Linked DNA regions of Homo sapiens. The protein of the gene in region 4 interacts with the protein of the main gene of each other region in a pairwise test. Each region holds a gene or a part of one and is shown on either strand. Other genes may lie near its edges. The genes, in order: CEP57L1, TXLNA, TCEA2 and CCDC136.

Region 1 (6,440 bases), on a different chromosome or scaffold from region 4:
TGCATACTTCAGCCTCCTCATTGGTTGGATCCAGTCAGTGTTTTTCATAGTACATACAGTCATACCGGTGGATTGTCAAATCAATTTAGCGGGTCACTACCAGCATTTTTTTTTTTTTTTTTTTTTTGAGATTGGAGTCTCGCTCCTTCACCCAGGCTGGAGTGCAATGGTACAATCTCGTCTCACTGCAACCTCCACCTCCCAGGTTCAAGCAATTCTCCTGCCTCAGCCTCCCAAGTAGCTGGGATTATAGGTGTGCACCACCATGCCCTGCTAATTTTTTGTATTTTAGTAGAGATGGGGTTTCACTGTATTGCCCAGGCTGGTCACGAACTCCTGAGCTCAGGCAATCTGCCCGCCTCAGTGTCCCAAAGTGCTGGGATTACAGGCGTGAGCCACCATGCCTGGCCAGCATTTTTTAAATGATATAAAATAGTATTGAAAATATCAGAATGTGGCCAGGTGCGATGGCTCACGCCTGTAAAATCTTAACACTTTAGGAGGCCGAGGCGGGCAGATTGCCTGAGCTCAGGAGTTCAAGACCACCCTGGGCGACATGGTGAAATCCCATCTCTACTAAAAATACAAAAATTAGCCGGGCATGGTGGTATGTGCCTGTAATCCCGGGTACTCGGGAGGCTAAGGCCAGAGGATTGCTTGAACCAGGGAGGCGGAGGTTGCAGTAAGCTGAGATTGTGCCACTGCACTCTAGCCTGAGCAGCAGAGTGAGGCTCCATCAGCAAAAAAAAAAAAAAAAAAAAAGATCAGAGTGCATCACACATAATTAAGGTAGCTTATGTTTTGTGAAACTTTGTGAGTACGGGTTGTCATTTTTAATGTAGCCCTAAATGTTTTTTAGGGAAGAAAAAGTTGGCTTTTAATAAGTATTCAGTGAGAATGAATTTGAAGGGTGTGGAGAAAAGTGGAATAGCCAATTTAAAATAGGAATACTCCCAAGTCCCCTGTTATGGATGTGCCAATCTATTGTTTATCCCAGAAATATTGTTTCATGTGTTTTACAGATAACAAGTCTCATTTTAATCAATACTGTTGCATTTCCTGGTCTATAGAATACAATTTTCAAACACTAGCCAACTTACCTTAGAGAAATACTGGTTTTCTAATGTGGGCAAATAAATACATTCAGTATGAATCCCTTAACAAAATGACCTCATTATGCTACCTCTTGGTAAAATCTAACCAAGCATGAGTCTTATGATTAAGAAAGAAATTTGCTCTGTAGGTGCTTCAGACAGTTTTACAACCAATAAGAATGTGAGATTTGTCGGAGAAAAACTATCTGCATGTCTCCAATCTGAAGAGAGCAAAGATCTGTTATTTGACAAACCCTATTTTTCCGAGCATCAACAGTCAGTGGCACCATGAAAATTAAAAACCTGATAATACCACCAATGTAGTACTCTTTAAAAACATGTCATCTTACTCAGCAATCAACCTGATTGAATATTTTAAAATGAATAAGTGGATAAATATCTTACCTGAAAGATAGCTTCATTAAATAAACTAACTCCTGAGAGGATTTCTTTGGCCTTTAATATCCTATTTAATAGATTTCTTATAACCATATCAGCAAAGCCACTCTGCTCTGGACAATGGTCAGAAGGTAGGAAGAAGTGTTATAGGGTAATGAGCAATAATAAGGCCACCAAATATAATCCCATTGTAATGGGATTCTACCCACTTGTAGAAGTTTATTCACCACTACAAATTACTAAAGTTAACCTAAACAATTAAAGAAAGAAATCTTAGTCTTTAAGAACAGAGGATTGTAAAGTGAGCCAGACCTTCCAATCAGCTAAAATAATGTAAAATAATGTACTTTTCAACCTGACTTGGCTTAATGTAGTTAAGTAAATTTTAGGATAGGTTCTAAAAAACCTTGAGAGGCATTTTGTTGTTGTTGTTGTTGTTGTTAGTTTGCCTTAAAGTTAAATGTACATTGACCTTTGGTATTTCTTAGAAAAACCTGTTACTGAACCTAGTACAGAATGTGAATCATTTCATGCCTGAAATACAAGATTGATGTTTACAGGGCAATTGTCCAGAATCTTGCTGAATTGGAAAGTATTTCACTCTTCATCACTGTAGATCCGTTTAACTTTACAAATGTGTTATTTAAAACATAAACCATTTTGGTGCACAGGAAACCCACTTAAAATTAAATTTTAAAAAGCTCTCGAGAAGTCTGTGGAACATTTATGGTTTTATAACTTACAATTTCTAGCAAAAGTATCTTTAATATCTTACAAAATATTTTCAGAGATAGCTTATCCAAAATATGTAATACATGTGAGAGAATAGCACTGTTGAAATGCTTGAACACATAAAAAGCATTATTGCCTTCATTTTCCCTGAAATGAACCAAGCTACCAATTTAAAGCTGGGAAAGTCAGTACCAGAGTTAAAAACAAGTTACTTTAAAGATATCTGCTTTTACTTTAATCTAAAAAATAATTGATTTTTTAAAAAACTTATTCTATTTTATGTATATAACTTCTCCTTTATAAGCTTAGAAAAATTTATATCAGTATTACATTCTTGATTCTCTCAAGGTATGATTTAAATGGTGGACACTTAAGCCAAAATTTCAAACAGGTTCTTTTTTCTTTGTTCTTTTACAGAATGGCTCTCAAGTCGAAAGAGGGCTGTGCCTTTGGTGTTTGGGTATGATATATTTGCCTGTGATTTCTCATTCTCAGAGCATTCCCATAAATAATGCCACAAAGTAGAGTTTGATTTTTTTTTTTTTGAGACGGAGTTTCGCTCTTGTTGCCCAAGCTGGAGTGCAATGGCGCGATCTCAGCTCACTGCAACCTCCGCCTCCCAGGTTCAAGCGATTCTTCTGCCTCAGCCTCCCAAGTAGCTGGGATTACAGGCATGCGTCACCACACCCGGCTGTTTTTTTTTTTCGCATTTTTAATAGAAACGGGGTTTCACCGTGTTAGCCAGGCTGGTCTCGAACTCCTGACCTTAGGTGAACTGCCCGCCTCAGCCTCCCAAAGTGCTGGGATTACAGGTGTGAGCCACCGCGCCCTGCCTAGAGTTTGATTCTCTTAAACCGTTCTACTAAAATACTATCAGTTTAAACTACCATCTACAGAAATAAAAAACATAAACCACTAAAAGATTAAAGCATTTAGGAGTTTATATGCAAAGAAGTCTTGCAAGGGAGTACAAGCTTTAGGAGGACAGGCTTATCAAATTAAAAAATGAAAAAACCTACAAAATTACCAAAGTCACCAAGTTTAGTTATTCTTTTCATGGTGGAAAACAGTTTCCTCAGATAATCATCATATCAGAGGTCATCATGTATCCTTAGATATCAGCATTGCCAAGACCAGGGATATAGTTATTAGTAATTTACAGGAAAGGCTCAAGGTTTCATTTACATGGGAAATGAGAACTAGACAGTGTGGTGACTGTTTTTGTTGTTAACCTTACCTCAGTGTTTTATCTCGGGTGGTCCCCAAGACCACCTTCAGGATCAGTGATTCACTGGAGGGACTCACAGAACTCAGAAAAGCTGTTAAGTTATGGTTATGGTATATTATAGCAAAAGAATATATATTAAAATCAGCAGCTGAAAAAAGGCACATAGGGCAAAGTCTGGGGGACACCAGGCACAAGCTTCCAGTTGTCCTTCACCTGTGAAGTCATGTAGACAGACCATAATTCTCTCAGCAGACAGACCATAATTCTCTCAGCAACAATGTGTGACAACATTCTTGGAGAATTGCTAACCAGGGAAGCTCCACCAAGCCTTGGTGTCCAGATTTTTTCTTGAGGGTTGGTCACGTAGGCATAGCATGACTGATAGCCCATGTGGCTGACCTTCAGTTTTCAGCCCCTCCAAAGATGGAGCTGATACTACATGGCCTAAGGACTTCACCATTAATCACATTGTTAGCTTAGACTACCTGGTATGGCCTAAGGCCCCCAAGTAAATTAAAACATTCATATCAGGCAGGATAGTCCAAGGACTTAGAGGTTATCTTGAATCTGGACACAGGACAAACATTTCTTTGGAATGTGAAAAGTTTACACAATCAAGACTTGCTATGTTGATCCTTTACTGCGGTATTGTTTTTTGTTTTCTGACCCAAAAGTGATGTGCATTGCTTACCTATCATGGCCTCTGGTTAAGGTGTCAGTCTTGCCTCCAAATTTCCTCCTAAAGCATGGAATTGGCCATAAATTTGCTTAGTGATTTTCTGATTTAGTATCATTAGTTTGATGACTAGTTTTATTATGTGAGTGTGATAAAAGGTTACGCTTAGTATACAAAGACCTTCTTATAAGTCTAGTTAATAAAACTAGGGCCATGTGTTACTACAACATAGGAGTTAACTTTGTCTGGAGGCTTTTTCAAGCCCAAGAGGTTGTCATTTCTTTATGTGTAAGATACTGCCCACATACTATACTGAAGTCAGGAACCAAGAACCGGTCAATTTACCTCAGCCAAGTTGCTTGGACTGCTTTGCTTAATAATGGGTTTGCCATATCTACTTTAATGAGATGTGTGGCATGGTGATGGTTACAAAAGTGATTTGTTAATTATTGCCTGGTAGGAAGGAGAACATGTTTTTTTTGAACCTATGCAAATAGCCACATGTCTGTGAAAAGTAAAGGGATACTTTTGTGTAATATTTAACCATGTATACCATTGTTTGTGTACTTTTTAATTGTGTCATTTTCTACAGTATTATTTTTGCATTTTCCTGACACTGTATTACTTACAAGTTATATTAATAATTTTTATTAATTTTTTTCCTGAATCCTAAAAGGTCAGTTGGAACATGAGACCATTTAAAGAATATTATTTCCTTCCAGTTTATTCAAGGGTGGCCTATTGAGAGTTTGAGATAAAGAAGAAAGGAATCTTTCCTTTCCTTCCCCCTCAGCCCGCCCCCTACCTTTCTTTTTTTTTTTTTTTTCTTTTCAGGGTCTTGTTCTGTCACCCAGGCTGGAGTGGAGTGAATGCAATCAAAGCTCACTGCAACCTCAAACTCTTGGGCTTAAGCAGTCCTCCTGCCTCTGCCTCCCAAGTAGCTGGGACTACAGGTGCATGCCACCACACCTGGCTAATTAAAAAAAAAAAAAAATTTTTTTTTTTGAGGAGACGCGGTCTCACTTTGCTGCCCAGGCTGGTCTCAAACTCTGGGCTCAAGCAATCCTTCCACCTCAGCCTCCCAAAGCTCTGGGATTACAGGCATGAGCCACTGTGCCCGGCAGAATTTTTCTGTGTCCATTAGAAATAGAAATCAGTCACATGCTATGATTTCAATATGTCACTCAAAAGCCATGTGTTGGGGCTGAACGTAGTGGCTCACGCCTATAATCCCAGCACTTTGGGAGGCAAAGGAAGGTGGATCACTTGAGGTCAGGAGTTTGAGACCAGCCTCCAACATGGTGAAACCCCGTCTCTACTAAAAAAAAAAAAAAAATTAGCTGGGTGTGGTGGCATGCACCTGTAGTCTCAGCTACTCATCAGGCTGAGGCAGGAGAATCGCTTGAACCCAGGAGACAGAGGGTGCAGTGAGCCGAGATCATGCCATTGCACTCCAGCCTGAGCCATAGAGTGAGTCTTGGTCTCAAAAAAAAAAAAAAACCTTGTGTTGGAAACCATCTCCAATGAAGCAGTGTTAGGAGATAGGGCCTAATGGATATAAATTACAGTGTCTAAGATGGATACTTTACTCTTTTCTTTTGAGAAGGGAGAGAGTATGTTATGCACTGAGAACTTTTCAGATTTCTTGCAGAGGTCATAATGTTCCAGACAAGCTGGCAGCAATCATTCCCATCCCATCACAGATCCAGGCTTATTTGTAGAATGGTTACACAAACCAAGCAAAACCTTCTGTAAAGTTTCTACCCTTTGCTCTAAAGTTACATAAAAACAATTTCCAAGTTTGTTCACTGTGTATATTTTGTTCTTTTTCATGGTAGATTTGTCTGTTGGAGTTAGATATCCCTAAATAGTGTGTTCAAATGATGTTTTTTTCTGACTGTTCAATCTCCAGCATATTTCTGAGGGAGAAAGGACATTGACTTTGGAGAAAGAAAGCTGTGTAATTACAAATGGACTATTACAAAGAACTATGCCTTCCTTTTTGAGGAGAAAAAAGATGGTTTTTAAAAATTAATACGCAGGCTGGGCGTGGTAGCTCACGCCTGTAATCCAAGTCCTTTGGGAGGCTGAGGTGGGAGGATGGCTTGAGCTCAGGAGTTTGAGACCAGCTTTGGCAACATAGTGAGACCTCATCTCTACAAAAAAAATTTAAAAATTAGCCAGGCATAGTGATGCATGCCTGTAGTTTCAGCTACTTGGGAGGCTGAGATGGGAGGATTGCTTGAGCCCCAGAGATGGAGGCCGTGTGAACCATGATCATGCCACTGCACTCCAACCTGGGAGACAGAGC
Region 2 (7,028 bases), on a different chromosome or scaffold from region 4:
AAAAGAATCTAGAATCTAAGTCGAGTGTCATTATATCCATGTTTTATTCCTATTCCCTTTTCCCCTTATGTATCCTCTTACTTTAAAGAGGAACTTTAAAAAATCTTAGGGACGACTAGGCAGAGTGGCTCACACCTGTAACTCCAGCACTTTGGGAGGCCAAGGCAGGCAGATTATGAGGTCAGGAGTTCGAGACCAGCCTGGCCAACATGGTGAAACCCCAGTTCTACTAAAGATACAAAAAATCAGCCGGGCGTGGTGGCACGTGCCTATAATCCCAGATACTCGGGAGGCTGAGGCAGGAGAATCACTTGAACCCGTGAGGCAGAGTTTTCAGTGAGCTGAGATCATGCCATTGCACTCCAGCCTGGGTGACAGGGTGAGACTCCATCTCAAAAAAAGAAAAAGGAAAAAATCTTAACGTCACATACATGGAAAGTATCATCTTCTTCACCCCCCACCCCCAACTGAGATGGAGTCTTGCTCTGTCACCCAAGCTGGAGTGCACTGGCGCGATCTCAGCTCCCTGCAAGCTCCGCCTCCCGGGTTCACACCATTCTCCTGCCTCAGCCTCCCGAGTAGCTGGGACTACAGGCGCCTGCCACCATGCCCGGCTAATTTTTGTATTTTTTTAGTAGTGACAGGGTTTCACTGTGTTAGCCAGGATAGTCTCGATCTCCTGACCTCATGATCCGCCCACCTGGGCCTCCCAAAGTGCTGGGATTACAGGCGTGGGCCACCGTACCCTGCCTTTTTTTTTTTTTTTTTTTTTTGAGATGGAGCCTCGCTCTGTCCCTAGGTTGGAGTGCAGTGGCGCGATCTCGGCTCACTGCAAGCTCCACCTCCTGGGTTCACGCCATTCTCCTGCCTCAGCCTCCCGAGTAGCTGGGACTACAGGCTCCTGCTACCATGCCCGGCTAATTTTTTTGTATTTTTTTTAGTAGAGACGGGGTTTCACTGTGTTAGCCAGGATGGTTTTGATCTCCTGACCTCGTGATCCGCCCGCCTCAGCCTCCCAAAGTGCTGGGATTACAGGCGTAAGCCACTGTACCCTGCCTTTTTTTTTTAATTAATTAATTTTTTTAGACAGAGTCTCGCTCTGTCACCAAGCTGGAGTGCAGTGGCGCGATCTGGGCTCACTGCAACCTCCGCCTCCTGGGTTCAAGCGATTCTCCTACCTCAGCCTCCGGAGTAACTGGGACTACAGGCGCGTGCCACCACACCAAGCTAATTTTTTTGTGTATGTCTTTAGTAGAGATGGGGTTTCACCATGTTAGGATGGTCTCGATCTCTTGACCTCGTGATCCGCCTGCCTCGGCCTCCCAAAGTGCTGGGATTACAGGCATGAGCCACCTTGCCTGGCCGAAAGTATCTTCATTTTAAAGTTCACTGTTTGGCTACTCTGTTGACAAGAGTTTAGTATTTCTCAAGGAGGCTAAGATACCTATTCCTTTTTGGATCCTACCTCTATCAGGAGGGTGGGCCTTCCTTGCATTGAAACAGTATGAAACAGTAGCCCTGAATTCATAAGTGGGACACCTTTCTTCTATTGGTAGAGCAGGCAGTTTTTTTCTCCTGCCAATGGTGCCTACTAAGGAGATTTCACTAGGGTACAGTCGTTCATTTGATAAGCATTTGTTGAGCATATCCTCTGTGATGGTACTATGGACAGTACTGGGGCTATAGTGAGGGCAGGATTGAGTTGGTCCTTATGGCAAGGAAGGCAGCTAATCAACAAGCAAAATATAAAGTATGATGGGGAGGGCTGTCTTCAGCACTCATGAGTGTGAGCCCAGGCCTGGAGGGGACACCTGGAGAAGAGGGTGCATGTCTTTGCTCCTGTGCTTTTCAGGGAAGGAGATCACGTTGCTGATGCAGACATTGAATACTCTGAGTACCCCAGAGGAGAAGCTGGCTGCTCTGTGCAAGAAGTATGCTGAACTGGTCAGTTCCCCCCTCCGCGGGCACCTTCCCTGCGTTGGGAAAATCAGCATGCCACCTGGTGTAAGGTTGGGGGTGCAGAGTCAAGTAGGTGGCTTAATTCCTGTTCAGCTTTTCTCTGAACTATCTGTTAAATGGGGAATCACTTCCAGCCAGCCTCTTCAGGGCTGTGCAGCAAGAGGAGAAACTGCATATTCCTTGAAAGAAATTTCTCAAAGAATGATTCCAAGGTGGTAGAGCCCTTGTTCCTGGCCTGAGTCCAAGACACCTTGTGATCTTGATGCTTCTTCCTCAAATACAGATGCATAGAGCCATTATCACAGTTAATAAAACTAACACTAGTCACTTGATACTTTTTCCTTTTACTCCAGAGCAGTCTTCTTGTCACTGCCTCCTCATATTCCCCATGACATTGACTTTTAACAGAAACTAGACTAGCTGTCTTGTAGGATGCCCCCTTCTAGCTTTGTCATCTCTGTGGTATCATTTTACTTCTTTACCTCCTGGTACATGTAAGTGAAGTAGAAGTTAGCTCTAAAGCTTGATCCAATTCAGCTTCAACTTTTTGACAAGAATTCTTCATAAGTACTTCATGTTCCATCACAATAAATGCAAAGCATGCTCTTCCCACTTTGTTGTAACATTGTTCAGTGGGTTGGGGGTGGGGCAGCCAGATTCTTCCATCATCAGGTCCCTTGTCAGAATTTGAACTAACAGATTTATCCATTGATGGTCACAGCCTGTGTATGTATGTATGTATGTATGTATGTATGTATTTATTTATTTATTTATTTTTTGAGACGGGGTCTTGCTCTGTCGCCCAGGCTGGGGTGCAGTGGCACGATCTCGGCTCGCTGCAAGCTCCGCCTTCTGGGTTCATGCCATTCTCCTGCCTCAGCCTCCCGAGTAGCTGGGTCTACAGGCGCCCGCCACCATGCTAGGCTATTTTTTTTTTTTTTTTTTTTTTTAGTAGAGACGGGGTTTCACCGTGTTAGCCAGGATGGTCTCGATCTCTTGACCTCGTGATCCGCCCGCCTCGGCCTCCCAAAGTGCTGGGATTACAGGCTTGAGCCACCACGCCTGGCCTATTTATTTATTTATTCAGAGTCAGAGTCTCGCTCTGTCACCAGGCTGGAGTGCAGTGGCGCGATCTCGGCTCATTGCAACCTCCACCTCCCAGGTTCAAGCGAGTCTCCTGCCTCAGCCTCCCGAGTAGCTGGGATTACAGGTGCATGTCACCATGCCTGGCTAAATTTTGTATGTTTTAGTAGAGACAGAGTTTCAGTATGTTGGCCAGGATGGTCTTGATCTCTTGGCCTCGTGATCCGCCCGTCTCAGCCTCCCAAAGTGCTGGGATTACAGGTGTGAGCCACTGTGCCTGGCCTCTAAGTATTTATTTTAAAATTAATTCATTCCACACACATTTATTAATATTTTCCTGTAAGGAACTTTACTCATCTTTAAAATGGGGAATGTCATACCTGCCTAATGACATTCTTGTAAGGATTAAATAAAAGGTATAAGGAAGATAAGCACCCTTTTGGAGTGATCCAGCCAGGGGAAAATTGCTGATGCAAGAGAGGAAATGAGTTGCTAGAGTGGTGTTGTGAGTAGAGGAGGGGAGCTGAGGCCTGCCCAAGAAGGGGGCTTGGCTGTGGTAACCACATGGCTAGGTCTGTGTGACTGGAGGAGAGGACGGGGCAGGTGGACTGGTAGATGTGCAGCTTGTGCCCCTGATTCTCTAGTTTCTTCTGTGTTTTGAGATTTGATGAGAACGATGAAATAGTTGTCTGGAAGGAGAGGAGTGTGAATAGCATATGCATTGTATTGGGATTGCTGGTCTTCCTGAAATTGGTGGCCATGAATTTAAAGTGAGACTCTTCAAGTAGGGTTGTTATAGTACTGGTGTAAAGCAGGAAGGTGCTTTACTAGGGTTGCAGTACTACTGGGGAAGGGCCAAGAGAGTTGAGGGTGTAAGAAATCCAAGCCAGGTAATGTAGTTATTTTAAAGGAGAGTGGAAGGATGGTTGAGTCAATGGATTGGAGGTCCTATAGGGTAAGAGACTTTCTGAGGATCACAGATACTGATTGGAATGAGCTAAAAAGATAGGTGATGGTAGTCCTGGACTGGGATGCTGGAAATTGAGATAGTGGGTGTGCTCTCTGGTAGTGACAAAGTCTAGATCTGCGCTGTCCAAGATAAATTCGTCTCTAGCTAATTGACATGTGGCCAGTTTGAATTTGAACATGCTATAAATGTAAGATACACATCAGCTTTTGAAGACTTAAGCAAAAACAAAGAATATAAAACATCTTTTTGTGAGAGAGTGTCTCAGTCACCCAGGCTGGAGTGCAGTGGCGTGATGTCCTGCTTCCAGGTTCAAACGATTCTCCTGCCTCACAGCCTCCTGAGTAACTGAGATTACAGGCGCATGCCACCAAACTGGCTACTTTTTTGTATTTTTTTTTTAGTAGAAACGGTTTCACCATGTTGGCCAGGCTGGTCTTGAACTCCTGACCTCAAGTGATCTGCCTGCCTCAGCCTCCCAAAGTGCTGGGATTACAGGCATGAGCCACCACTCCCGGCCTCACTTTTTTACATTGATTCCGTGTTGAAATTGTAATGTTTTGGATATTAGGTTAAATACATATATTACTAAAATTAATTTCACCTGTTTTTTACTTTTTTAGTGCGGCCAGTAGAATATTTTTAATTACTTATGTGGTTTGCATTATATTTCTGTTGTACAGGCCTGGATAGGGTCATGGGAGGGGAACTGAGCTGGGGAAAGGAGTGGGTTTGTGGAAGAGGTGATGGACTGTGAGGCCAGGGAGTTAGAAGGATTATCTGTTGATACTGAAGTGGCCACAAATGAGAAAAGTAATTGTGTTGGGGAGAGCGCTGATGAACGCAGCGCTAACGTTTTGAAGGAATGCGAGGGAGCGATGGGGGTCTGTCTGTTAATAGGCACAAGGTACGGTAGCAGGTGGTCTCATCCTCGGGCATGAGTGTCCAGCAAGTTGGGGAAATGCAACAGCTTGAAGTGGCTCTAGTGGCCCAGAGTCAGAGCTGGAATAGGAATTGGCATCTGCTGGCTGTGTGGCCCCTGCTTGCCCTAGTGAGTTACCATTTCTCTGTCCCTACGGTGGAGCCTTTGGGGTTATTGTGAGTTCATGGGAGGAGCGTGTAAGCACCGGCACAGCATCAGCCCATGAGAGTGCTCCTGGCCTGAGAGGGTAAGGGTCAGGGCAGCTCAGGAGACCCTAGACCTGCATAGTGATCCCCCCACCAGGAAGGCCCCACAAGATGCTCACCTGCCCTCCCTATCCCTGTCCCCAGCTGGAGGAGCACCGGAATTCACAGAAGCAGATGAAGCTCCTACAGAAAAAGCAGAGCCAGCTGGTGCAAGAGAAGGACCACCTGCGCGGTGAGCACAGCAAGGCCGTCCTGGCCCGCAGCAAGCTTGAGAGCCTATGCCGTGAGCTGCAGCGGCACAACCGCTCCCTCAAGGTAGGCCTGGGCCCCCTGGAACAGGTGACTCTGGTTTCCTTGACTTCCACTTAATGTTTCTTTCATGGGCTTTCCTCTTAAAAAGTAGTGCAGGCTAGGGCCAGGCGCAGTGGCACACATAAGTGATTAAAAATCTTCTGGCCACTAAAAAACAGAAATTAATTTTAGTAATATACTTAACCCAATATCCAAAACATTACAATTTCAACATGAAATCAGTGTAAAAAAGCAAGGCTGGGTGTGGTGGCTCACACCTGTAATCCCAACACTTTGGGAGGCTGAGGTGGATGGATCACTTGAGGCCAGGAGTTTGAGACCAACCTGGTCAACGCAGTGAAACCCCATTCTACTAAAAATACAAAAATTAGCCGAGTGTGCTGGCAAATGCCTATAATCCCAGCTACTCAGGTGGCTCAGGCATGAGAATTGCTTGCACCTGGGAGGCTGAGGTTGCAGTGAGCCGAGATTGCATCACTGCATTACAGCCTGGGCAACAGAGTGAGACTCAGTGTCCAAAAAAAAAAAAAAGTAGTGCAGGCTTGTGGCATAGAAATACACTTTCTCAATAATGCCTTACGTTAAGAGAGTACTGCTTGTAATCATTTGACATGTATTAGATAAGGTGAAGGATAAAGTACTAAGAGAATCCATAATGCACTGGCGTTAGTATTTCTCAATGAAATGACAGTCCCCTGGTAAGCGGAGGCCTGGCTCTGACAAGCAGCTCTTGTCCCAGACGTTGGTCAGTCAGGAACCTGGGTCCTTCCCATGTTCTGCTGCTTCTATGGTGAGGTCAGTCTGTGGTTACACCAAGTTTAAATACAGCCTTTTAACTTTCTTTTTTATATGTAAAATCTTACATGTAGTTTTTAGAATGAAATTATTATACATGTACCATTTCATATCCTGTGCCTTTTTTTCACTTTACATAACATTTTTCCCTATCAGTATGTGTAGGGCTATCTTCTCATTATATGGATATATTATATCAGTGCCCTAGTTAAAGCATTTTGGGGGTTGTTTACAATTTTTCATTATTACATATAGAACTATAGTGAAAATTCTTGTTATATTTATCACTGGTCAGTTATATAGAACTTATCTGTAGGATAAGTCATGGAATTGAAATGGCTAGGTCACAGTATATGCAGATTTTTCATTTTAATAGATTTTGCTGGATTGCCTTCCAGTGAGGGGGCAGTGTGCCTTCCCCATCAAAAGTGTTGAGTGCCTAATTCTGCACAACTTTGCAAACCCTGGGTGTTACTAAATTTTAACAGCTTGGTCTCTGGGGGTACAGAGGGGACAAATGCACATTAATCTGAAATCTGGAAGAATAGGCCTTAGGAGATCCGACTTGCTTCAGAATGGCACTTAGCACTTACATGTGTGCATGTGTGCCTGCATTTTTTCTTCCTTTTTTTTTTTTTGGGGACGGAGTCTTGCTCTGTGGCCCATCGCCCAGGCTGGAGTGCAGTGGCGCGATCATAGCTCACCACAACCTCCGCCTCCCAGGTTCAAATGACTCCTCTGCCTCAGCCTCCCAAGCAGCTGGGACCACAGGTGCACACCATCA
Region 3 (6,924 bases), on a different chromosome or scaffold from region 4:
CGTGGCAATGACCTCACTGACTTCGTTGTAACCACCTCAGGTCACTGACCCAAACCAGAACAGAAATGCCAGCTCCCCTGGCCAATCATGAGGCTTCAGAGCCACGGCCCCTCCCCAGCAGCCAGGGCCACACCCAGGTGAAACTGCAGCCCCAGGTTCATTCACTCCCCTGTGTCTTGATGCCCTGATGCGCAGGGCAGCCTCTCCCCAAAGCACCCCCCGCCCACCAGCTGTGAAGGGCCAACCCAGGAACATCAGTGTCCCGAGCTGAGGCCAAACTCTCATGAAGGGCCAACCCGGGAACATCAGTGTCCCGAGCTGAGGCCAAACTTTCAAGGGTCCCTCCACTCCAGGCACGGCCACAGCCAACACCTACAAGGCCCACAGCCCCCCTCCTCATCTATCCTCCAGGCCTCTGAGTTGCCCCCAAGCAGGCCAGCACCCCTCGCCTGGACTGTTCCAATGCACCTCGTTCTCTCCGCCTTGTCTCCCCACCCAAGATCTGCGTTTCCTCCAGGTCCTCAACACTGACGAGGCCAGGCACAAACCGGTCACATTTCCACACCAGGCCCGGCAACTCAGTGCTCCCCAAGGGCGCTGAGCCGCCACCGAGGCCCTCTGCACCTGCAGCTCCACCGCCTGGGGCGGCCTCCCACAACGTCTCCCTCCCTCCCTCCCTCCCTCCCGGGCTTTATTTCAACAACACCTTCTCAGCAAGGCCTCTCCTGTTTAAAACTGCAACTGTGCCCTGCAACACCCCATCTCCTCTGTAACACGTGCATGTGTTTCCACGTGTGTATCATTCCCTCTGCCCTAAGGTGACCTGATCAGAGTCCCACGACCCACAGGCCATGGGAGGGGCTTGTCCCACCTACCGCCCGCACAACCCCAGCAATCCGGGTGGCATAGTCTGCTCACGCTGCAGCCCCTCCTGAGCCCTCCCAGGCAGGCCCTGCCTCTTGGGCTGTACAGAGTCCAGCCTTGAGGTGATAGCCAGAGCCAAGGCCACTGTCCCCTGAAAGCCCTGCACCTGCTTACGTGGCTCTCAGTGGGCTCAGGTCCAGAGGCAAAAAAACCCCCACACCTGGCCCCCAGGTCCCCGAGGGGACCTCAGGCACTGGGACCCCCAGGAGGCTCTGCTGGCTCCCACTCCCCACTGCACAGCGCCCGCCTCCCCTCCTCATTCTCCCCTGGGGCTTCTACTCAAGCTGTTCTTCCACCAGAAACCCCCCATCAGTTCTGCCCAGCCCCACCCAGCCCTCCCCTGGCTCCATGACCCATCTTTGCTTCTCCCACCTACAGCTTTTATCGTTTGTGTTTTGTCTCCTTTAAGAAGGGGAACAACTCCATTCTCGGGTCATCTCTGGAAACAGCTATGAATGGTTCGCAGACCCCTACTTTGTGCTGACCAGTTTTCCGGGGTGTGTGTGAACGCAATGATGGGGGTGCTGCACCCAGCAGGAATGAGTGGGAGCCCACCCCTTCCCAGGGCAGACCCCAGTCCAGAACGCTGGTCACAGGAACCCAGACTCAACCCTGCTCAGCCCAAAAAGCTTCCCCCAAACCCCCACTGCAGTCACACAGCCCTGGGGTGGCTGCACAAATCACCCAAAGCCCATGACTCAGCCACCTTCACCGCCCTGGGCTGGCCTGGCAGACACACAGCTGGCCCTGCCCCAGGAGTTCACAGTCTGGGTGGGAAAGCACAGGTCACGTTTATTGAGCCAGCCAGGAGCTCCAAATGACCTGCGGCCAGACCCCTCCCCACCCCCCAGGAGGCAGGCAGCATCCTCTAAAGATGCTTCTGTGGGAGGGTGCAGAGGTTGCCAAGGTCATGACGCTGGAACTGGACCCCCACTGACCTGGCCCCTTCAAAGTCCTCACACACAGCCTCCTCCAAAGTCTCGCTGTGGCCGCAAGACAACAGAGGCCCAGGCCGCAGTGAACAGAGCCGGCCAGAGGCTCCAGCGCCCAGACACTCCCAGAGGAGGCTTGCCCGACCTCCTGGCTCTTATATAAGCACACCGGCTCTTTTCGGAGGGTGTCCACATAACTACCCACAACCCAAGTTGCTGCGGGCTAAGTCCTGGCTAAAGAAGGGAGAGAATTTATTAGAGAAACCTGGTTCTTGTGGGGTGGGGACAGACAGGGAAGAAAATGGGCCCACAGGCAAGACAGGTATCTGGCTGGCCTGTGAAGGAGGATGACAAGGGCTGGGAAGAGGCAGGGGAGGCACGGAAGCTCCAGAAGAAAAGGGGATCCAACCTCAGACTCCAAACTGTTGCCGGCGACAAATGCTATGGGAGACGGAGGGTGACAAACGCTGTAAGAGACGGAGCGTGGGAGAGGGCTGAGTTGGGGGGCGGGGCTCGGCCTGTGAGGATGCCCAGGCCGGGATGGAGGAAGGCAAGGGGCTGGCGCGGCCCGCAGAGGAGGCCCGAACACCCCGGGGGCTCCGAGAGGCGGGACAGGGCCAAGGAAGGAGTCGACGGGCCAGGCTGGGGGTCTGGAGTTAAGGGACAGGGAAGGGTGCGGAGCCTGTGACTGCGGGCGAGGGAGGGGTCTGAGTCCAGAGCGGGTGGCTCTCCCGGGACAAGGTCCAGGCCTGATCGCGGCCTCTGCCGGGGTTGCGGGAGTGAACGGCAGGGCTGGCCCGGGGCAGGGGTCTCGGCCACGGGTGGGGGTCTCCCCTGCGTCCCGGTTAGTCTCTGCCGGGGAGGGGTCTCGTCCTGCCCCTCAGGTCGTCTTCCGGCCCTAACGGGGGTCGGCGGGCTCGACGGGGTCTCGGCGGGGCGGGGTTCCCGGGGTCCTGGCGGCCCGCGCCCCTCACCGCGCTCTTCTTGGTCACCATCTTGTCCAGCCTCCGGGCGATCCGCGCAATCTCCTCTTCCTTGCCCATCATCGCCTCAGGAGCAGCGACCCCCGCGCCCGTCGCGCCCGCCTCCGCAGCCGGGCAGGACCCCGGCCCCGGCCGTCGCCACCTCCCACACCCGCCGCAGCCGACGCAGCCCCGCCGCGGACGACAGACCCCCGGTTCAAACCCTCGGCCCCGCGGCCGCGCGCGGCATCCTAGGATGCGTAGTCCACGCGCCCGCCTGCCGCGCCCGCCGCGCCCGCGCTCTGGACCACAACTCCCAGGCGCCACGCGGCGCGCACAGCCTCCTGGGAAGTGTAGTCCTGACCCACCGTCGCCAGTGACTCGTGATCCCACAATACCCCGCGAGGGAGGCGCCCCGGGCACGCCCCTCCCAGAGCTCAGACATCCCGGAGCGACCGGGCCCCAGGAGGCCCAGGAATCTGCTCCCTTCTCTCCTCCTGCTTCGGGCCTTGCTGTCCCGCGGCGTCCTTCGGTGGGTGGCTCAGGACCCAGTGCCCTCAGCCCTTCTCTTGGGCCCCGCTGAGCCCTGCGCGCGCCCCACTTGGCCTAGAAGGCCGTCCCCAGCCTCCCAGAGCCCAGTTTGGGTCATTCGGGCTTCTGAGTAGAGTTACTTCTTCAAGAGGCCCGCGCACACTGGGAGGCCTCTTGTGGGGCCCTGCAGGTGTGAGCGCGCGGTAGCTGGACGTGGCGTCTGGAAGGGGCCATTGCTGGGGTTCGCGAAGTGCGGGGGCCTCTGCCGAGGCTGCGTGGGCAAGGCCCCTGCCTGCAAAGTCAGCTACCAGGGAGCAGATTCTGGGCTCTGCACGTTGACCACTGTGTCTCAGTCTCCCCACCTGTGAAACTGGAGTTAAGTGTCCGCCTCACAGGGCTCCCGTCAAGATGATGTCAGCTGATTCACATCACATGCCTGAGAACAGAGAGGGGATGGAGCATGACAATTAGTGTTCATTGACATTGTTGTTGGAGGTCCCTAGGTAGGGCCAGACTGCAGGCAGCCAGAGAGATGGCCCAGGCCTAGGGAGGGTTGAGGACGGGGACAGGTGCAGGGCCAGCATCCCCACCACTGCCTGGCAGCTCCCCAGTAATGCAGATGCTGGGTGGTTTCCTGGAGAGGGCACAATCCTGGGGGAGGGTGTGGATCAAGGAGCCTGTAGTCATTCAAGTTCAGGCCAACGAACTATGAGGCCAGGTGGCAGGTGGAATGGGCTGAGCATTTCTTGGGCTGTCTGTGGCACTAATCACATATAACTGAGCTTCCCCGCAGCCAAAATGAAAAGGAAAATATGGTCAGTTAAGAGACTCATCTTAGCCGGGCAATAGTGGCTCATGCCTGTAATCCCAGCGCTTTGGGAGGCCCAGGCGGGTGGATCACCTGAGGTCAGGAGTTCGAGACCAGCCTGGCCAATATGGTGAAACCCCGTCTCTACAAAGAATACAAAAACTAGCCAGGTGTGGTGCCGGGCACCTGTAATCTCAGCTACTTGGGAGGCTAAGGCAGGAGAATTGCTGGAACCCGGAAGGCGGAGGTTGCAGTGAGCCAAGATAGCACCATTGCACTCCAGCCCTGGCCAACAACAGCGAGACTCCGTCTCAAAAGAAAAAAAAAGAGAGAGAGAGACTCATCTTGGTTGGGCACAGTAGCTCACCCCTGTAATCCCACCACTTTGGGAGGCTGAGGTGGGCGGATTATCTGAGGTCAGGAGTTCCAGACCAGCCTGGCCAACATGGTGAAACCCTGTCTCTGCTAGAAATACAAAAATTAGACCGGGCATGGTGGCTCATGCCTGTAATCCCAGCACTTTGGGAGGCCAAGGCAGACGGATCACGAGGTCAGGAGATCGAGACCATACTGGCTAACACGGTGAAACCCCATCTCTACTAAAAATACAAAAAATTAGCCGGGCGTGGTGGCGGACGCCTGTAGTCCCAGCTACTCCGCAGGCTGAGGCAGAAGAATGGCATGAACCCAGGAGGCGGAGCTTGCAGTGAGCGGCGATCATGCCACTGCACTCCAGCCTGGGCAACAGAGCAAGACTCCATCTCAAAAACAAACAACAACAAAAAAAAAATTAGCCGGGCGTGGTGGCACATGCCTGTAATCCCAGCTACTTGTGAGGCTGAGGCAGGAGAATCACTTGAACCCAGGAGGCGGAGGTTGCAGTGAGCCCAGATTGTGCCACTGCACTCCAGCCTGGGTGACAGAGTGAGACTGTCTCCAAAAAAAAAAAAAAAAAAAAAAAGACTCAGGCTGGGCGCGGTGGCTCATGCTTGTAATCCTAGCACTTTGGGAGGTGGACTGCCTGAGCTCAGGAGTTTGAGACCAGCCTGGGCAACAGGGTGAAACCCCGTCTCTACTAAAATACAAAAAAACAAAAAAAAATTAGCCGGGCATGGCGGCATGCGCCTGTAGTCCCAACTACTCAGGAGGCTGAGGCAGGAGAATCGCTTGAATCCGGGAGGCGGAGCTGGCAGTGAGCCGAGATCATGCCACTGCACTCCAGCCTGGCAACAGAGTGAGACTCGTCGCAAAAAAAAAAAGCTCAATCATAGGGAAAAAGCATAGAATTCCTTGTGAGGAGCAAAGCCTTTCTAAGACAGAGGCCCCGCGATATTATATTATTATTATTATTAATAGATGAACACGGTTTCCATACTGACTGATTCTGCCCCTCACAGTGAGCTGGGGACATAGCTTCCAGCCTAGACCATCCAAGCAAGTCCTCGTGGTCAGAATCCCATGGTTTGGGCATATATGAAGACTTGAAGGGTCCAGCCTCATCAGAGGCACGAGGGGAGGCTAGAGCCACCCAGCCTTCAACCACTGTCTCAATGGCTGACAGCCAGACCAAGGAGCTGGTCAGGGTCCTGTAGAAGCCACACTGGAACTGCCCTTGTGCAGGAACCCCAGAAAGTTTGGCTTCGGAGGTCCGGGCGGCCAGGGTTTCAAAGCTGGTTCCCACCGTCCACAAAGACACTGGCCACATCCATGGAGCCTGCCTGGCCAGACACATAGGCTTCTCCAACGGCCGAGTGTGAGTTGATTTGAAGACCACCGAAAGGAAGCCAGCCCTCAAGCTGGGGGTGGGGGGGAGACCTCCAAGTATCAGGACTGCAGATCCTGAGATGCTGGTAAGGGCTGCAGCACAGAGAGGCCCCTCCTGGGCAGGAGGTGCAGCCCAGACAGCACAGAGGAGAACTAACCCCAGAGAGCTGCAAGTTCCTAAGAGTGGAGGTGCAAAGGAGAGAGGGTCAACGTCCCAGAAGCATCAAGGAGCTGCCAGAGGAGGCTGTGCAGTTGTGCATACGCCGCAGTCCCAGTTGAAGTGTTGGTGGGGCGGGGTCTGGGGTATCAGCACGGACCTCTGGAGCAAGTCACTATCAAGGAGCCAGCAGTGAGGCCGCTCCCCACCTGATTTCTCCCTGGGATGGACAAGCGCAAGGTTCTGGGGAAGGAGTGCACACAGACGCCCCCGGAAAACCAGACTAGAGACCCAGCCTTGACCCTCCCCAGGCCGGCCCAACCAGTGGAGGGACTTTGCATGAGGGATGCTTTTAAATATCTGGTTCATCTGAATGTTTTCAGCCACAAAGATCCCCTAGCACGGTAACTCTTAAAGCATTACCTAGGGAGCTGGGAGCTGGTCGAGAACAAAGACGACTGCCCCCTTGCACTCCCCGCCCCCACCAGGGGCTGGGGCCCTGGGGTCTCTGTCCTCTGTGATACCTGTGTGCAGATCAGAAGTACAGGCCACAGGCCAGCCAGGATGGATAAGGAACAAGGGGTGCCCAGAGGAAGGGAGAGGCACAAGAAGGGCTGGGAGTTTCTTTTCAGAGGTGCAGAGAGTGTCCCAGAGTTGGGAGGGAGAGGGATGTGGTCTGGAGTGTGTATTGAAGCCTCAACAACCTTACCAAGCTGCAGGGAGGGACAGAACCCACTGCAGGACAGGGCCTATAGAGACGATGGGGTGGGACAGAGACATACTGGGCCTGGGAGCTGGTGGGGGGCGGTCGGGCAAGATGGGAGGGAACAGTGCGAGGCGTCTCAA
Region 4 (6,691 bases):
TGGGAAGTGGGGTCTTGGGCTCAGATAACTCCGAGTTAATGGGTGGCCCTGCCAAGGATGGATATCTCCAGGAGTGGAGGCCTCGCGCTCTAAGGCACAACCCTTCGGGGAGGTGGAGATGCAGAAGTGGGAGATGAGAGCAGTCTGTCTGCACGAAATCATGGGCTCAGCCCCGTTTGCTGTGGAACCACCTCACAATGACCACCTTTTCTGGGAACCAGCGTGGGGTCTCTGGAGTCCTTTCATTTACGTAGTAGCCTTTGTTACCTTCCTTATGTCGGGAGTGTTCCCTCATCCCTCTTTTGGCACTGCAGGAAGGACATTGACAGTGTGAAGTCTACTTCAGGCCATTTCTGTCGGTCTGGGCAAGTCACTCAGTCCAGTTTTCCTATGGTGCCCTGTTAGGTTTAACCTTTGTTGTTGCTGTTAGGGGTGTGTCAGGGGATAATCTCTTCTTTGTAGGCTCATGTTGCCCCCTGGATTCTGTATATCACAGGACATGAAGGTGGGGCCTGGAAGTGATCAAGAGTGATAGTGAAAATATTTCACATCTGTACAGTAGGAGCATAGACTAGTCCAAGGAGACCATCCCTAGCCTTAACCCTTCAGTTGCTAGATCATTGAGAGGTTGGGGTGGAGGTATCCTGGGATATATATGCCAGAATGCCAGAGGTAACTTACCAACAATATAGAAGTACTTCCATATTTTAATAACTGGTACGTCTCTGCAGGTATGTAGCAACTGAATTCTTGCCCTGGACTTAACTCAGGGCTCAGAGTCCCTACAGAGTTAGAGTATTTCCTGTGTAAGTCCTCAGCTTACATTACAGGTTCTTTCTGTTCTAAACAGAGGTAAAGAAAAAAAGCCTCTTGTGGTGGGATTATCCAGTCAACTCTGAGGATATCTGGAATTTCCAGCAATTTGGTCTTCAGCACTGGCTAAGGATCCAGTGTGCAGTGCTCTGCTTACCTTGTGCCAGGGGACCATTACCTAAGATGTGGAAAGTCGGAACCACTGCAGCCCCTCCCACTATCATGTTTCCTTGAGCTCATCATATTCCACCACGTGCTGGTTCAGAGCCTCACAGATGTCTTTACCTTCGGTGCCACATTTCTAAAGCTAGACCTGATTTTTCTACTTCAAATATATTCTATGTTTCTATATATGGAGAGATCCCTTTGCCCCGTGGGTCCTGCGTCTTTTGCAGGCAGCTCTAGGGCATGTGTATTACCACCTTGCAAAATCGGTTTCTCTCTGGAAGATTGTTGCAGTGAAAGAACTAGCCCTTCTCCATTGTCAGTTTGTTTCGGTGCATGTTGTCTTACAATGATATCATTAGATTCCTAGGGGATCTAAGGGACCAGAGCCCAAAATACTAAGAAACTTAATGGAAAGCAGGCTAGAACAAAGGGACAGGTGACCTGGTAGAAGACTGGCTCTTCCTAGAGTGACCTAGGAAAAGTCACAAGAAAGGTCTAGATGCAGATACCTCCTGCTTGACAGGATATGAGAGGTATGTGACGAGACAGAAAGAAAACTGGACTCACCGCCTGACTTGGACCTAGCTGCTGCTTAACCCATTCAATTTTGCAATTCCTGCAGACTGCCGGTGGAAAGAACCAAGGCCCAGGCAGCAGAAAAGACATGCAACTGCTCTAGCTTACCTGTTTTTTAACCTCTTGATTCCTTTCTCTTTTCCCTTTGTTTTCTCATCTTCATTATCTGTTGGATCCATGCGTTTATGTCTCACATCTCCTGGTCTCTCCTCGTGCTTCTTTCTCATTTTGGTGTGTTGCAGTCATCCCCTACCCCCAATCCCCCCATCTTCTCCTTGCCTCTTGTAGGCCTGGTGGTCATCTCGGCTTTGCTCTGGTGCTGGTGGGCTGAGACGTCGTCCTAATGCAGGTACTGGTATTGCTTCCTCTCCTTCTGAGGGATAGAGGGAGGGTGCAGGTTGCCCTGGCCTCTCCTCTTTCCCTTTTCTCCCAGCTGCTTGCTTCTTGCTTGTGCCATTTTATAATAGGTGATGCTCAGGTCTGAGTTTTAGTTCTGACTTTTCCTTGGGCTACTGCAAAGCCTCTGACATCTCTGAGCATGTCTTCGTAATGCATAGGAGGTTGGAATGCTTGCCAGAGACATGGTTTGTTTCAATCCTTGGCTGGGAAAAACTTGGATAAGCCCAGCTTGGTTGCTGCTGTCAAAGCTGCCTCACTACTTCTTTATCCCCGCTCATCCTCTGTGTGATGGCTAGCCTGACCACTTCTGATGAGCTGATATTTGCAAGGCTGGCCTGGACTCTCTTTGTCTTGGTTTAACTCCGGAGCCAAGTTCTCACTACTGTTGCTACCCAAGATGGCAAAATAAGGAATCCCTCTTCTGTTGGGAGAGAGAGGAGCTCTGAAGAGCTCTGATCCTCATGATCCTCCCAGGGGCATTGGTAGGAGGGCAACCTAAGCTGGTCCATCAAGCTTGGTGAAATGGAACCGAACCCCTACTGTATTCTGCTCTTTCTACTGAACAGTTCTCTGCTTCTGGACTTCCAGTCTCCGGAAAAGTCAGAACAGAATGCCGGGAAATTTTATTAGTTATCTATTTATCTATTTTGTGGGCCAGATTCCATGGTAATTGGCTTCCCCAGCTAGGTTTTCTGGAGAGAATGAGGTATTAGTGAAAAGTTTCTACTAGCCAGAGATGTGTGTTCTCAGGAAATCAAGACTGATATATTCTGGCCACTTTCCTGTCAGCTCCCACACATGTAATGTACACTGTCAACAGGATACCAAATTCAGGAGGCAGAATGTGGTCTTACGGCCTAAGGTAGAAGCCTGGGGTTCCACCTGCCTTCTGGAACCCATAAGGTATTCTCTCTAGTCCTGCATTGGCTCCTCTCTCATGCTTTCCCTGCCTCCCCCTCCACTCCCCTCTCTTCTCACATTCCTGTGAACGGAATGTAGCTTAATGCACAGGGTGGCAACTGGAGGATTTGTTGGTGGCACTTCTCTCCATTTCCTTTTCTGTCCTTCCTCCTGCTCCCTCCCCAGCTTTCCTGTTACTCATCTTCAAGCCTCCACTTTTCTTCTTGACTTTAGGTATTCCCTTTACTCCCTGGTCCACAACTGCTTTAGTGACGGGGCCCCTCTCTATGACTGTTTCTCCCCTGTCACCCCCCAGAAGTCTTAAGGCACTACGGGTGAAACCCAAAGAGTTCAGCCACAGCCTTCCACTACCTCAGACCCAGCCCGGCCCAATCAGAGGGAGAGGAAGAACTGCTGGTGAAGGGTTCTCCTGGTGGGGCCTGTTATCCCCAGAGCTCCAGGAGGCCCCAACATGCACCTGTGCAGCCAGGACCTGAGGGAGCACAGTGTGGTAGAAAGCGTGGCTGCCAGGCGGTCAGAAGAACTTGGTTGAGTCTGTCTCTACTGACAGGCGTTGTCCCAGGGAGCAAAATGCACACTCTGAGCTCTAGTTTCTTCAAATGTAAGCAAAGGATGATCGAACCTCTGCCCTCCTCACAGGTTTTTGTCAGGACCAGATGGGTTGAAGTAGATGAAAGTATTCTATAAATTATAAAATACCCCATCATTAATAAAAAGAGCACGCACTTACAAAATGCAGTCTTATGTGTCAGGCACTGTTCTAATCACTTACGTATATTAACTGATTTAATCCTTGCAACAACCCCATGAAGAAGCTACTCCTATTTTTTTTTATATATGATTAAACTAAGGCATAGAGAAGTTAAGTAAAACAGCCAGGAAGCTGCGAGTCAGATTATAAGGACTCAATATTAGCAACAAATAAGATTCCAGTCTTGCTTCCCTTTATTGTCTCTCCTCATTTTGAGCAGTTTCTCTTCATTGGTCCCAAGTAGGAAGACACCATACTTGTGTTTAGGCAACCTCAGATCACATTAGCTCTTTAGGTAACTAATATATTATTTATTTATTTCATGTATTTTTTATAAGCCCCTCTGCAGATTGTGTATGCTAAGCGTCCTCTCCCCATTCTGTACCTGCATTTGATTTTGAGGCTTCAAAGGCAGAATTTTCCATTCTTCCCTATTATAGTTCATTGTTCTTACCTTATAAGGTTTTGTGTGTATGTGTTTTTAATCTTGACCCTGTGGTTTTAAAATATTCACTTCCTCTGCCACCTTCACATCATCTACAGGGGTGGCAAGCCCTCCTTCCCTGTCTTCATCTACAGAGGACAGAGTGAGGACAGAGCCTCTAGAGTGTCGTCTCTTGGGGTTCTTTTATTCAGCTCATTGGTCACTTACCTGCCATTCAACAAACTGTACTGTCATCCTACCCTTATTTCTGCATATTATCTGCAAAGATCATAGAAAATTCTGTCAAACAACTCAACGTCCAAAAACATGATTCCGGTGATTTGTCACTTAGGTCACCTAGTTTAAAAGGAGAGTTTGACACGACTTCCCCTTTGGGACACCCACACCAGCCCTTTCCCCATCCCATGTAGAAGCTTGCCTTTGCCCAGTGTGAGGTGCACGGGTCACATTTAAGGATTTCAGCTCCTCCCTCCTTTAAGAACACCAGACTAACATTCTTAGCAATGCACATTAGGATAGAGGCATCTGAGCATATAAATATTTTTTTCTAGCTAGCTCCCTTCTTAGTTTTTGTTTTTGGTTTTAGAGACAGGGTCTCGCTCTGTCACCGAGGCTAGAGTGCAGCGGCATGATCATGGCTCACTGTAACTTTGAACTCCCGGTCTCAAGCGATCCTCCTCCCTCAGCCTCCGGATCTCTTGGTTTTCTTACATGAGTTACTCTGTATATCCACCTGTAACATTGCTTGGCTTTCCATTTCATACCTTCTGTTGTTCTTAGTAGCTATTTCTATAAGCTCAGGAGATTTTCTTTGCTCTTTAGCAGGCTTAAAGTCCTCTTTTTAGATCAATTATCATCTGAGAAAATGTGTTCTTAGCATTAATGGGCTATATTCCATTTTTACTTGAAACCATCCTTCTGTTACCTATGCCATAGCTTATGACTCAAAATCCAAATTCTACCTTTCAGTTAGTAGAGTAAAAAAGTAATAAAAATAAAACCTATTTCCCCAAGTATGTATTTTCTTGTCTAAGATTTTCATATTACCTAATGGATGCTTTTTGGATATCTTCGATGGTGCCACTTGTCCCATGAATCAGCAGGGTTCCCTAGTGGCCGGCAGTGTCTGGAAGCCTCAGCATACTCTAGCACATGCACCAGGAAGTCAGTCAACATACCTGGTGATTAGGAGTGTTCTAATGACCTAGGCCCAGTGACAGGTTTCCTTAAATTTCCTTGAACCAATGTCATTCTCTGTCAAAGTTTGTCTGCCTAAGAACCTCCTACTTACCTGCACTCCGTGGTGCACTTTCTTCATTTCCCCTCAGCCTTATTCCCCCTTCCCCATCCTCTTGACTCTGAGTTCACTTCACTGCAGTGAAACTAATGAGGTGCTGCTGCTTTTCTCAAAGCCCCAGATTTCCCCTCCTCTTTCTTGCCATGGCATCCAGTCCTTTCTCATTGCAACCACTTGGAAGTCTGGCCCCTGAGCCTGCTTCTTCACATGGGAGCTAGTATTCTCAGCCCATGGGGAGAAACGGAGGCCTGAATACAGGCGGTCACCTAAGGTGGTGCGTACAGTGTTGGGCCACATGTCTAGTGGTGCCAGGACTGAGAGATCACTTACCTCCACCGGTTACCCAGGAGGTAACAGAGACTGATCCACAATGTTCCTGAGGTGTCTTGGGCACCCATAGGCAGGTGACTTCTGGCTTAGGGCAGGGTTCAGGAGGCTGGGCACTCACAGTTTCTCTTTGGTCCCCACAGAACATGTTTGGGTTGTGGAAGCCTATGGTATTCTTGGCTATTGCAGCTGTGGCTCTGTATGTGTTACCCAACATGCGACAGCAGGAGTCAGAGTTCTGCCTCATGGAGTGATGGCAGACCTTGGCCAGCGCGAGGGCAGATCCCCAGTGGCCACCACCCTCAGCTTTGGGCAGGACACACTGTGCCAGAACCCTCCCCATATGTTCCATGTGTCCCCATCTCCTCAGCCTCAGTCACCCAGGCTGAAAAGGCTTGTGGGGAGCGGCTGACTTCCATCTCCTGCCTTGTGTAAGAACCTGAGTTCCTTGTAATTAAATATCAACTGAATTACATGAGACTGTGGATTTTTATTTGCTAAATGCCTCACAACACAACCAGAACAGAGCAGTCCCCCTTTAACCAAGTACCTCACATAAGGGTCTGACTCCTAAATGCGGCTTCTCACCTTGCAGATGGCCTCAGAAATGAGGCTAGCCCCTTGTGCTGTCGACTGACTCACAGAGGGGTTAGTCTGTGCTTATTAACCCCATCCTGAGGTGCTCTCCTGAGCATGGAGAAATGGAGTGACTGAGGGCTGGGGAGACCTCCCCTAAGGTTCTGTGCCCACACCTATCTACATGAGAAGGCCGCCCTAAGAAGATCCACGTGTGTGCCTTCGTGACTTAGCCTTTGTGACTTCTCAAGGGATTCGCCCTCAGAGATGACTTTAATCAGCCAGGGTCCTGGCAGTAAACAGGTGGCACACTCAAAGCTTTACATGAAGAGAGTTTAATGAAGAGACTATGTACCAAAGGCAGAGTTAGGAGAAGCAACAAAAAATAGTGAAGTACCAGGCACTAGCAACAGTGTAA

The links.
Region 1: the proteins of CCDC136 (region 4) and CEP57L1 interact in binary tests that used the Homo sapiens proteins (3 or more experiments, as listed by UniProt).
Region 2: the proteins of CCDC136 (region 4) and TXLNA interact in binary tests that used the Homo sapiens proteins (3 or more experiments, as listed by UniProt).
Region 3: the proteins of CCDC136 (region 4) and TCEA2 interact in binary tests that used the Homo sapiens proteins (3 or more experiments, as listed by UniProt).

The regions. Positions count from the first base shown.
Region 1 is NC_000006.12:109,168,486-109,174,925, forward strand, and holds the end of CEP57L1 (centrosomal protein CEP57L1), read left to right. Parts: 3' UTR 1-5,933; downstream 5,934-6,440. UniProt on the Homo sapiens protein: Centrosomal protein which may be required for microtubule attachment to centrosomes.
Region 2 is NC_000001.11:32,182,673-32,189,700, forward strand, and holds part of TXLNA (alpha-taxilin), read left to right. Parts: intron 1-1,852; coding exon 1,853-1,944; intron 1,945-5,281; coding exon 5,282-5,452; intron 5,453-7,028. UniProt on the Homo sapiens protein: May be involved in intracellular vesicle traffic and potentially in calcium-dependent exocytosis in neuroendocrine cells.
Region 3 is NC_000020.11:64,059,291-64,066,214, reverse strand, and holds the start of TCEA2 (transcription elongation factor A protein 2), read right to left. Parts: upstream 3,018-6,924; 5' UTR 2,903-3,017; coding exon 2,831-2,902; exon of another isoform or gene 1,863-2,830; intron 1-1,862. UniProt on the Homo sapiens protein: Necessary for efficient RNA polymerase II transcription elongation past template-encoded arresting sites.
Region 4 is NC_000007.14:128,815,959-128,822,649, forward strand, and holds the end of CCDC136 (coiled-coil domain-containing protein 136), read left to right. Parts: intron 1-1,799; coding exon 1,800-1,901; 3' UTR 1,902-1,906; intron 1,907-3,172; coding exon of another isoform or gene 3,173-3,353; exon of another isoform or gene 3,354-5,086; intron 5,087-5,840; coding exon of another isoform or gene 5,841-6,132; 3' UTR 6,133-6,172; downstream 6,173-6,691. UniProt on the Homo sapiens protein: May play a role in acrosome formation in spermatogenesis and in fertilization.